2 separate regions of the Homo sapiens genome follow, and region 2 is linked to region 1. The links come from fine-mapping of genetic effects on gene expression. A gene starts in region 1. The other region holds a variant in brackets. All regions are shown on one strand. Distances are between the middles of the regions.

Region 1 (4,388 bases):
GCAGGGCAGAGAAGGGCAGAGAGGCATCCAGGTGTCCTCCCCAGCTTCACCTCAGAGCCTGGACCCTTTTAGTCTGGATGTCACAGTGGGTTCAAATGGAAGACTATGCTCATCCCCGTCTGTGGGAGGTGGCAGAGTATCTTCATCCCTCCTCACTCCCACCAGAAACCTCCATTGTCCTCTCTCACTTTGAACTCTGAGGAGAGGGTTTCTCTTCTTTGGCAACCTGTGGAAAGGGGAAGGGCTAGGGACTCTGCCAGCCTCCACGCCTCCCCAAATGCTTTAGGCCAGTCTTTTAATGCAATGTCAGTGTTGGAAGGGTCCTCAGAGATTCTTGAATTACAAAATCCTGAGAGAGAAAGTGCCCCAAGAGAAAGCACAAGGCAAATGAGAGGCAAAGTCCTCAGATTTCCTATCAGTCCAGGCCTCTCCTCACTGTGCCGTCAAGTGGGTAATGTCAACATGCATGCAGTCACAATGCACACATGTACACACTTCCACACATACAAATGCATAAGCATGCACACACCCATGTGGATACATATGCACACATGCAAAACATAGGCATGTATACAAATGTCAGTGGACCAATATACAGTGTGTTCACAGCAAGCACATGGACATTGCCTGTGTAGAAGGTTCTGGCACACAACTATACATGAGCCAGGAATACACATACTGGTGTCCAAGATGCACCTGCATGCCCCAGCTGGTGGGCTTCACCCCTAGCCAGGGGAGGGAAAAGACATTGTTTCCAGGGCTCAGGACAGACCTGTGTGCCCTCTCCTTTCTGTGGAAGCCACCAAAAGGAGAGGCAGCCCCTTCTCTCTCCCCTGGAGGCAGCTGGTCCAGTCCAGGTGCCTGTGCTCAGACACAGACCCAATGCTACAACCCTCTCCCACCAGCAAGTACACTCAGTGCTCTGCCAGCTGTAGCTCTTGGGACCGGAGCAGACCCAGGGCAAGAGGAGGTAAACATCCCAAACAGATTTCTCAGAGGCTTGGTAAGTCATGGGCCATTAAAATTTGCTCCTTGAATTTGCTTCGAATACAGCCTTCTCCACCTGGGTGCCACTCTGGAGATGGAGTGGGCCCCTCCACTCTGGAATTCTCCCCACAGGTATGGGGGTGGGGTGTTTTGAGGACATTTGGGAAGATTTCAGGCTATAGTAATGGAAGACTCTAGGTATGTGTGACCCAATAGAAAAGCAGAAATGTATTGTGTGTGTGCATGCACACACATCCTGAAGAGAGTATTCTTATCAACAGCCTGTGACTCTGCCTTTGGCAGGCAGGTGGGTGGGAGTGCCAGGAGGGGGCAGGGGATTGTAGAGGAGACTAGTGAGTACTCGCCTCCCCCTCCTCAACTCTGATGAGGAGTGGGGTATAAAGCCGGGCACAACTTAGATTCCTCTCTGCCCCCTGCCACCACACAAGCGCACGGAGAAAGCTCCATCTGGGGTGCTCGCATCCTCCCCTCCTCCTGAAGACCTGGTCTGCAGGCCTCCAGGACCAGCGCAGAGGGGCGGGAGCCTCCTGTGAGAGAGATGAGAGTCCAAAGACAGAAGGGACCCAGGAGAATTTCTGATTCAACCACGACTACTGCAAGAGTGGGCTTGGGCCCTGACAGCAGCAATCGGGCCCTGACAGCAACCATTTCCTGCAGCGAGACCCACGGCTCTGCCATCTGATAAATAGAACACAGTGGAAAACTGGACGGAGAGAGCTGGGGAGAAGCCGCCTCCACACTCCCAATTTCAATACTGAATCCTGAAGAAAACAAAAGCGAGTCCCAGTAACGACCACAGCAGGGCTCTCCTTGCCCTTCCCCCGCCCCTTCACCTCCAGGTACAGGACTTGTCCATTTAGCAGAGTGCAGGCAATTCAGAAGATGTCACTCCCAGAAATTCAAAATTAACATGATCATTAATCACTGAGGGTCTTCCGTGCACATTGCTAGCCATTTAACACAATTTATTTCCTTCAACAACATACATTTCTGTGTGTTGCCTATTATAATCCCCACCTTACAGATAAGAAAAGTGAGGTCCAGGGTCATCCTGCTAAGGTCTCACCAAATCACGTTGAAGTCTATACTGTAGTTACTTATAAATAGAAGAATGATTCGCAGTCGCATAGCGCAGTGTCAAGTCTCCACATTGGTCCTGGACTTTGGCACCTGGGGGAGCAGGGGGAGCACTGATTTGCGTGAAGGGCTGTTATCCCTCCTCTCCTCTCCTTCAGTCTTAACTAGGAGTAGCCTCAGCACCTCTCCAGCCCTCTTCCCTCTTACTCTGTAACTCAGGTCCGAGTTCCTGCTCACACACCCCTACTCTACACCTCCGACCCGGGTCTCAGATTAGCGTCCCAAGAGATTCCGATCTTTTCCCAGATTAAGATGCCCCTATCCCCGCACAATCAGCAGTTTCCCCCCTCACACTTTCCTCCCGCACCTGCGTCCAGACTGGGTCCGCCGAAACGGCCCGCCCCATCCGGGCGTCTTGGCCTTGCTCCAACCCGGCTGGAGCTGCCCGCGCCCGGCACGGTCCGCGGAGGGCGCTTCTTACAGGCACTTCCGGTCAGCGCAGCCCAGGCCGCAGGAGGGTACGGCCCTGGACCCCCTCTCTCCAGTGGGGGCTGGAGATGGGAGCGCAACTGGGGCTCCGCCGAGGTCTCTGAGGGCACTTCACCCCCGCCCCCGACCCCAGGAACTGCGAAACCCCAAATCTTCTTGCCCACCGCGGGGCGCAGGTCCTGCCCACCCGCTCTCCAGGGACGCGCGCAGAAAGGCAGTCCCGGCCGCCTCCCCGCGCCAGGGTCCGGGCAAGCGTCTGAAAGCTGTGCTTGGGCCGCAGCTCCAGCCATCGCCCCTCACCCCCGGTTCTCCCGGGCCACGTTCATTGCACAGTTTCGATTTGTTTAGGCCGGGGTCTCCTCTTCTTTCCTCAACATCTTTTTCTGTGGGCTCCCCGCCTCCGTATTCCTCCTCATCCTCTGCTCCAAGGTTTCCGTTTTTTGCACCGGAGGCCGCCCTTCTGCGACCAGCCTTCTCCGGCCGCTCGGACTCGGCCTCTGCAGCGGGGTGCACCCGGGCGTCCCTTCGGCTCCCGGCCCTCCCTCTCTCCTCGTCGCCCAGCCCTGCCTCCAACTTTGCGCCCCCGGCTGCCCCGCGCCGCGGCTCAACTGGACATCCGAACGCTCCGACTGTCCGCTCCCCTCCCCTCCCCCGGCCGACACGTGGGGACCAGCGCTGACCTTGGGTGAGGCCACGCTGTCCCCCGCTGCTCTCCAGTCACCCCTGTATCCCTTTGACTCTTGGGCTTCCGAGTAGGGGCTCCCGGAGTATTACCAGGGAAAAGGGGAGCGCCCTTCCCCTGGTAATGAGAGTAGCCACGCAATGTCGGCTGCGCAAACTGGGCCTCAGAGCGGCCAGGCCAGGGTCAAACCAGGAAGAGGGGGAGGGGTGGACAGCAAGGCTGAAGAGACCTGACTTTATTTGTGTTGCTTCAACTGGTCCTGAATGGTTACACGAGGCGCGCGCTCTTGCACACACACCGCGGGCAGCCCAAACCCTCGCTGGCTCGGCCCGCCGGCTCCTCGCCCTGCCAGTCCTGAGCCGGCTCTGAGCCACTGGAGTCAGAGGGCCCGGGCGCCTGCCTTCTCGGTGCGGGCTGGGGAGGACCTGCTCGCGAAGGGCTGCCAACTGAACTTTTCCTGCACCAGGTGAGCCCCTTCTGAAATCCTCGCTGCGGGATACTTTTTTTTTTTTTGAGGGGGCGAGAGGAAGTTGCAGAGCAGCTCCGGCCCCACCACCTCTTTCCGCAATAAAGCCACCATCCTCAGGGCGCAGAGATTTGTTCTCCTCCTCTCCTTTCTTGGAGCTGTGTGGCCAGTTCTCTTACCCAGGCAAAGCTGAGGTTTCCTGCTCGGGTTCACTGTTTACTTAGGATTTCTCTAAAACTAGCGGCGCCAACTTGCCCTCCCTCTGCGCCTTCCCTGGCGGCCCCCACCCAGGCCTGGAGGAACTTCCAGAAGGGTGAGGCCGGGCAGGCGGGGGCGAGGAGGCCGCGGCCTGGCAGGGACTGTTCTTCCATCCTTTGCTGGATTTCCCGCGCCTTCTATCCCTGCAGATTGAGCTCTGGCCTTCACCCCGGGCCTCTTAACTTCAGGTCCGCCCAAGTGCCCTCCTCTCAGCAGGCGGAGGCTCACAGCTCTGTCGGGAGTAGGGAGGTAGGTACCCCAGGGAGGACGGCTGAACCTAGTTCCACGCTTATCTGGCCTCGAGTTTCATATCCATTCTTCATGTCCTCACAGGGCTGACCGCATTGTGGTGCAAAGTGACAAGTCGAGTGTTGACTTGGGGACTGCGATGTAAGTGAGGGACCCTGG
Region 2 (4,388 bases), 65 kb after region 1:
ATGTCTCAGCAAAACAAAACAAAAACGCAGCTTCCAGCTCCATGCAGGAGACTAGGGGCTGATGGGGACGTGGGGGACGTTTCTCCTCACCGCTTCTGTTTTCCCTTCTCTGGTGCAAGGTGGGCTAGAGTCAAGAGGACAGCTCTGCTCACTTCCACCCTCCTGGCTTCACTCAGCTAGCATTTGCTGAGCACTTCCTAAGTGCTGGACAATGACCAAGTGCCAGGTGCACAGATCTGAAAAGGAGAGCACAGTCCGATTAGAGGAGCAGATGCACAAACCCATACTTGAATATGTCAGCATCCTGCCTTGCTCAGTTGTACGGGCTCTAGATGCCCGACTGTTAGGGTTCAAATCTCAGCCCTGGCATTACTTGCTGTATGTCCTGGACAAGTTAATTTACTTCTCTGTGCCTTGTTTTATCCTCTATAAAATGGAGGTAAGAAAAGTACCTGCCTATATAATGTATTGCTCACCCCACCTTTTTTTTTTTTTTTTGAGACAGGGTCTGTCTCTGTTGCCCAGGCTGGAGTGCAGCAGCGTGATCATAGCTCACTGCAGCCTCGACCTCCTGGGCCCAAGCAATCCTGCCGCCTCAGCCACCTAAGTAGCTGGGACTACTGGCATATGCCTCCACACCTAGATAATTTACTTTTATTTCTTGTAGAAACAGGGTCTCACCATGTAGCCAGGCTGGTCTCAAACTCCTGGGCTCAAGCGATCTTCCCACCTTGGCCTCCCAAAGTGCTGGGATAAGAGGCATGAGCCACTGTGCTTGACCTGTATTGCCTGTTGTATAACAAATTACCCCAAACTTAGTGGTTGAGAATAACAAACATTTCTAAAGTCACAGTGTCCATGGGTCAAGGATATGGGTGTGGCTTATGGGTGATCTGTCAGGAAGATGCAATTAAAGTGCTGGAATTGCGGTCATCCCTGGGCTGGACTGGGGAAGGACCTGCTTTCAAGCTCACTCATGAGGCCATTGGTGGCCTCAGGTCCTTGCTGGCTATTGGCCAGAGACATCAGGTGCTCACCACGTAGGCCTATAGCGCTGCTCACAACTGACAGCCTCTCCCAGAGTGAGGCGCGCGCGCACGCGCGCGCGCGCGAGAGAGAGAGAGAGAGAGAGAGAGGGAAAGAGAGAGAGAGAAAGAGAGAGAGAGATTTAGGAGCCAGTTTTTTACTGTCTAATTTCAGATGTGACATCCCATCACTTCTGCCATTTTCTATTTGTTAGACCGAGTCACCAGGTGCAGCCTGCACTGAAGGGGAGGGGAACGCACAGGGGTGTGAACACTGGCAAGCAGGTCGCAGGGCCACCTAGACACCTGCCACTGTAGCTCATAGATTATCATGAGTGTCAAATGAGTTCACGTGCAAAAGAAGAACAGTTTCTCCTCATTCCCACTTCAAGGCTCTTATCACCACGTTGAGCTGCTCATATGATTAGAATGCTTCCTCCACCTCAAAACACACAGGCACATGTGCGCACACGGACACTGCCTGTCTTTCTATCCTTCTTTCTCTTGTTTCCTGTCTGTCTCCCTGCACTAGTTTGTAAGCTTCGGTGGTATGGATTTTTGTCTGTTGTCTCACACCTAGAAACAGTGCCTGGCACACAGCATTTTCTCTGATCAATAGTTACTAAATTGAACAATGGAGCTAACCTGTACCTCCACTGGGATAAGCAGTATTGGAATCATATGATCTCATGATTGCAACAGCGGTCCTATATTCCCATTTGCCTTTCCATTTCATCTCTGTAATGCACACTATCCTTTGTGTTGGACCATCTCCAGCATCTACAAGTGTTCCTGCATGTTGGTCAGAGCTCATGACCACACTTGGTTTCAGAACATTTCCT[A/G]TTTTGTCTAGCTCAGTTCCTACCCTCTGCAGTAGAGCAGGGATATTTGGATGGCTTGGGGTCAGAAGGCTGATCTGATGTGGCACACAGGGACTGGCACTCATCATGTGAAAGGTGGCTGTATGCCTTCAGTCCTGGGACGCTGATCTGCTTAATTCTGCCTCATTAGAAAGGGGCCACCTGCTGGATTTGTTACTGAGCCTTTTGTGTTCTACCTTGGTGCTGTGGGAGAAGCTGAGTGGCCTGGAGAAGAGCTAGGGAGTGGGCTTATGGGTGAGTACCTGAGCCTGAGGCTGAACCTGGCTTTGACTTGCAATTCTTTCAGTAGGTGAGGGTTGCCAAAACTTTAATGTGATCCAGTTCACCTGGAAGATCTTATTAAAGTTCAGCTTTGGTTTTAATAGTGTGGGGTGGAGGTCTGGAATCTTGCCTTTCTGACAGCTGCCAGGCATTGTTAAGGTAGCTGGTTCTTGGACCACACTTTGAGTAGCAGCAAGGAATCAGGCAATGGGTTCTTCTTCAGTAGTTCTTCCATGCATAGATCTAAAAGAGTCAGGGTTTCCACACTTTTGTGTGGATCCCAGATGGGCAGGGAAGGAAAAGGAAGCCAAAAGATGCAGAATCCAATGCAACTGGAGGCAGGGAGTAGAAGTGTAGGAAGACAAGAAGGACCCTTAGATGAGGTATAATGAAAAGGAGCCCTTCGGGTGGGTCCACTCCAGAAGGCTGGAGAGCAGCAGTTTTAGGTTGACTGGAACAAGAGATTGGGGTCCAGGTAGCAAAGGGCTTTGAGTGCCAGGCCTTGGATTTGGTTATGCAGTCTGGGGTTTCCAAATTCAAATGCCTATAGGGGTCAATACGCGGCAATAAGGAGCAGTGGGGCCTGTGGCCAGCCATGTGTATTTGAAAGGTCAGTTCCTACTCAGCTCCAGCTGGTTCTTGGATTGTAGGTCATCTGTAACCAGATCTTCTAATTTCTGAAGCAAAGTCCCATATCTGGGATTTTATGTGATATATTCCAATTTTTAAAAGCTATCAAGCCAAACGTAACTTATTTGCAGCCATGTCTGGCTTGAGAACACCCAGTTATGACGTAGACTGAGGCAGAAAGCAACCAGTGAAGGTTTGGGACAGGAAGTTGTCTCCTGGAGGAAACCAGCTCATGGATGATGTTCATGGCTGTTGACAGCCTTGGTCAGGAGAAGCTGTGTTTCTGGATGCCATGCTTTTCTACCTGCGACCTCAAAGTCTTCTTAAGCAGCCATACATGTGGGGAAGAGGTGTTCTGAGGACCAAAGGAAGGTGTTCACCTGAAGTCCAGAGAAGCTTGGAGACAATCACCTGCTTTAAACACAAGAACTAAATGTGCTTCTGCCTCTTCTGTCTTGCCCCTGAGACTTGGCACCACGTCCTGGCCACGTCCAGAATTGTTAGAGGGCATGATACAACCTGGGGTTTTGTAGCAAAGTGAGGTCAGAGGAATGTTTGTTTAAATTTCAATGTCATCATTTTCTAGCTTGTTGACCATTAACAAGTCAGCTAATCTCTTTTGCTTCAGTTTTCCTTGTTTACAAAATAGCTGTTGGTAATTCTACCTATCCCAACTGAGATATCAAACGATACCTCATTTGATTACATTTGATTCTGAATCTATTACCTCAGTTGATAACAGTATGGATAATATAGATACTATATTATTCCTACATTTCTACTCCCTGCCTCCAATTACATTTATTGATAGTATCTATATTATCTCAGTTGAGAATCAACCCAGTTGAGAATCAACTGAGATAATATAGAGAAATATACCTTCCACCAAACAGGGCACATCAAGCCTTGTTTCTCTACTGAGATAATATAGAGAAACACCATAGGACCTTGTACAGACTAAATGCTCAGTTAATAATGTTTTTTATTATTATTATTACAGTTTGGAGGCAACAGAAGATGAGCTTTGGAATGGTTATTAGGGATCATTCAACCTCCATACCTTACAGAGAAGGAAACAGACTCAGAGCAGGTGGGCAACTTGCCCAAGGTCGCATGGTGAAGTCGAGTCAGCTGAAATCCACCACCTGCGCATCTGCTACGTCACATGCTTCTCCCTAGCGGTGACCGCATGGCCTGGCACATGGAATATTTGTAGAATGAATGAATGAACCAGCAATCATGGAAGAACCAGCTGTTCCTCTCATTTCTTCTTCATTGTTGTTAACATTGCACCCTTGATTCATTTAAAACACATGGGGACAAGGGGGGGTCATGTATATAGGATTCAGGGATTTTTGGATTTAGAAATGGTGAAGAATATACATAGTATTGGAGTTTATTATTGTTGTCTCTCCAGGAAACTTCCCCCCTTCCTCCCTTTTCTTCCTCCCTCTTTCCCTCCCTTCCTCCCTCTTTCCCCCTCTTCCCTCCTTCCCTCTCCTTCCTTTCCTCCCTCTCTCCCTTTCTTTTTTCCTCTCTCCCTCTTGTCTTCTCCCCAACCTTCCTTCCATTCCTACTTCTTCTTATCAAC

Which allele goes with the higher level. Positions count from the first base shown, and alleles are read on the strand shown. Sizes are in standard deviations (SD) of each study's normalised expression.
In carriers of allele G in region 2, the expression in hippocampus of the gene that starts at base 2,571 in region 1 tends to be higher than with A alone (large effect, 0.93 SD a copy in GTEx).

Evidence for each region. PIP is the estimated chance that this variant, and not a neighbour inherited with it, causes the effect.
Region 2: its variant is fine-mapped to the expression of LINC01956 in hippocampus (GTEx, PIP above 0.99). The same link has a PIP of 0.9 or more in spinal cord.

What each region holds. Positions count from the first base shown.
Region 1 is chr2:118,834,329-118,838,716 of GRCh38, reverse strand. LINC01956 (long intergenic non-protein coding RNA 1956) reads left to right here and starts at 2,571. Exons shown (of 3, transcript NR_199712.1): 1 at 2,571-4,229; 2 at 4,314-4,370.
Region 2 is chr2:118,769,733-118,774,120 of GRCh38, reverse strand. No RefSeq gene overlaps it. Among named protein-coding and RNA genes, the nearest start is that of LINC01956, 64 kb to the left of the region's middle. The variant A/G (reference allele first, on the strand shown) is at 1,868.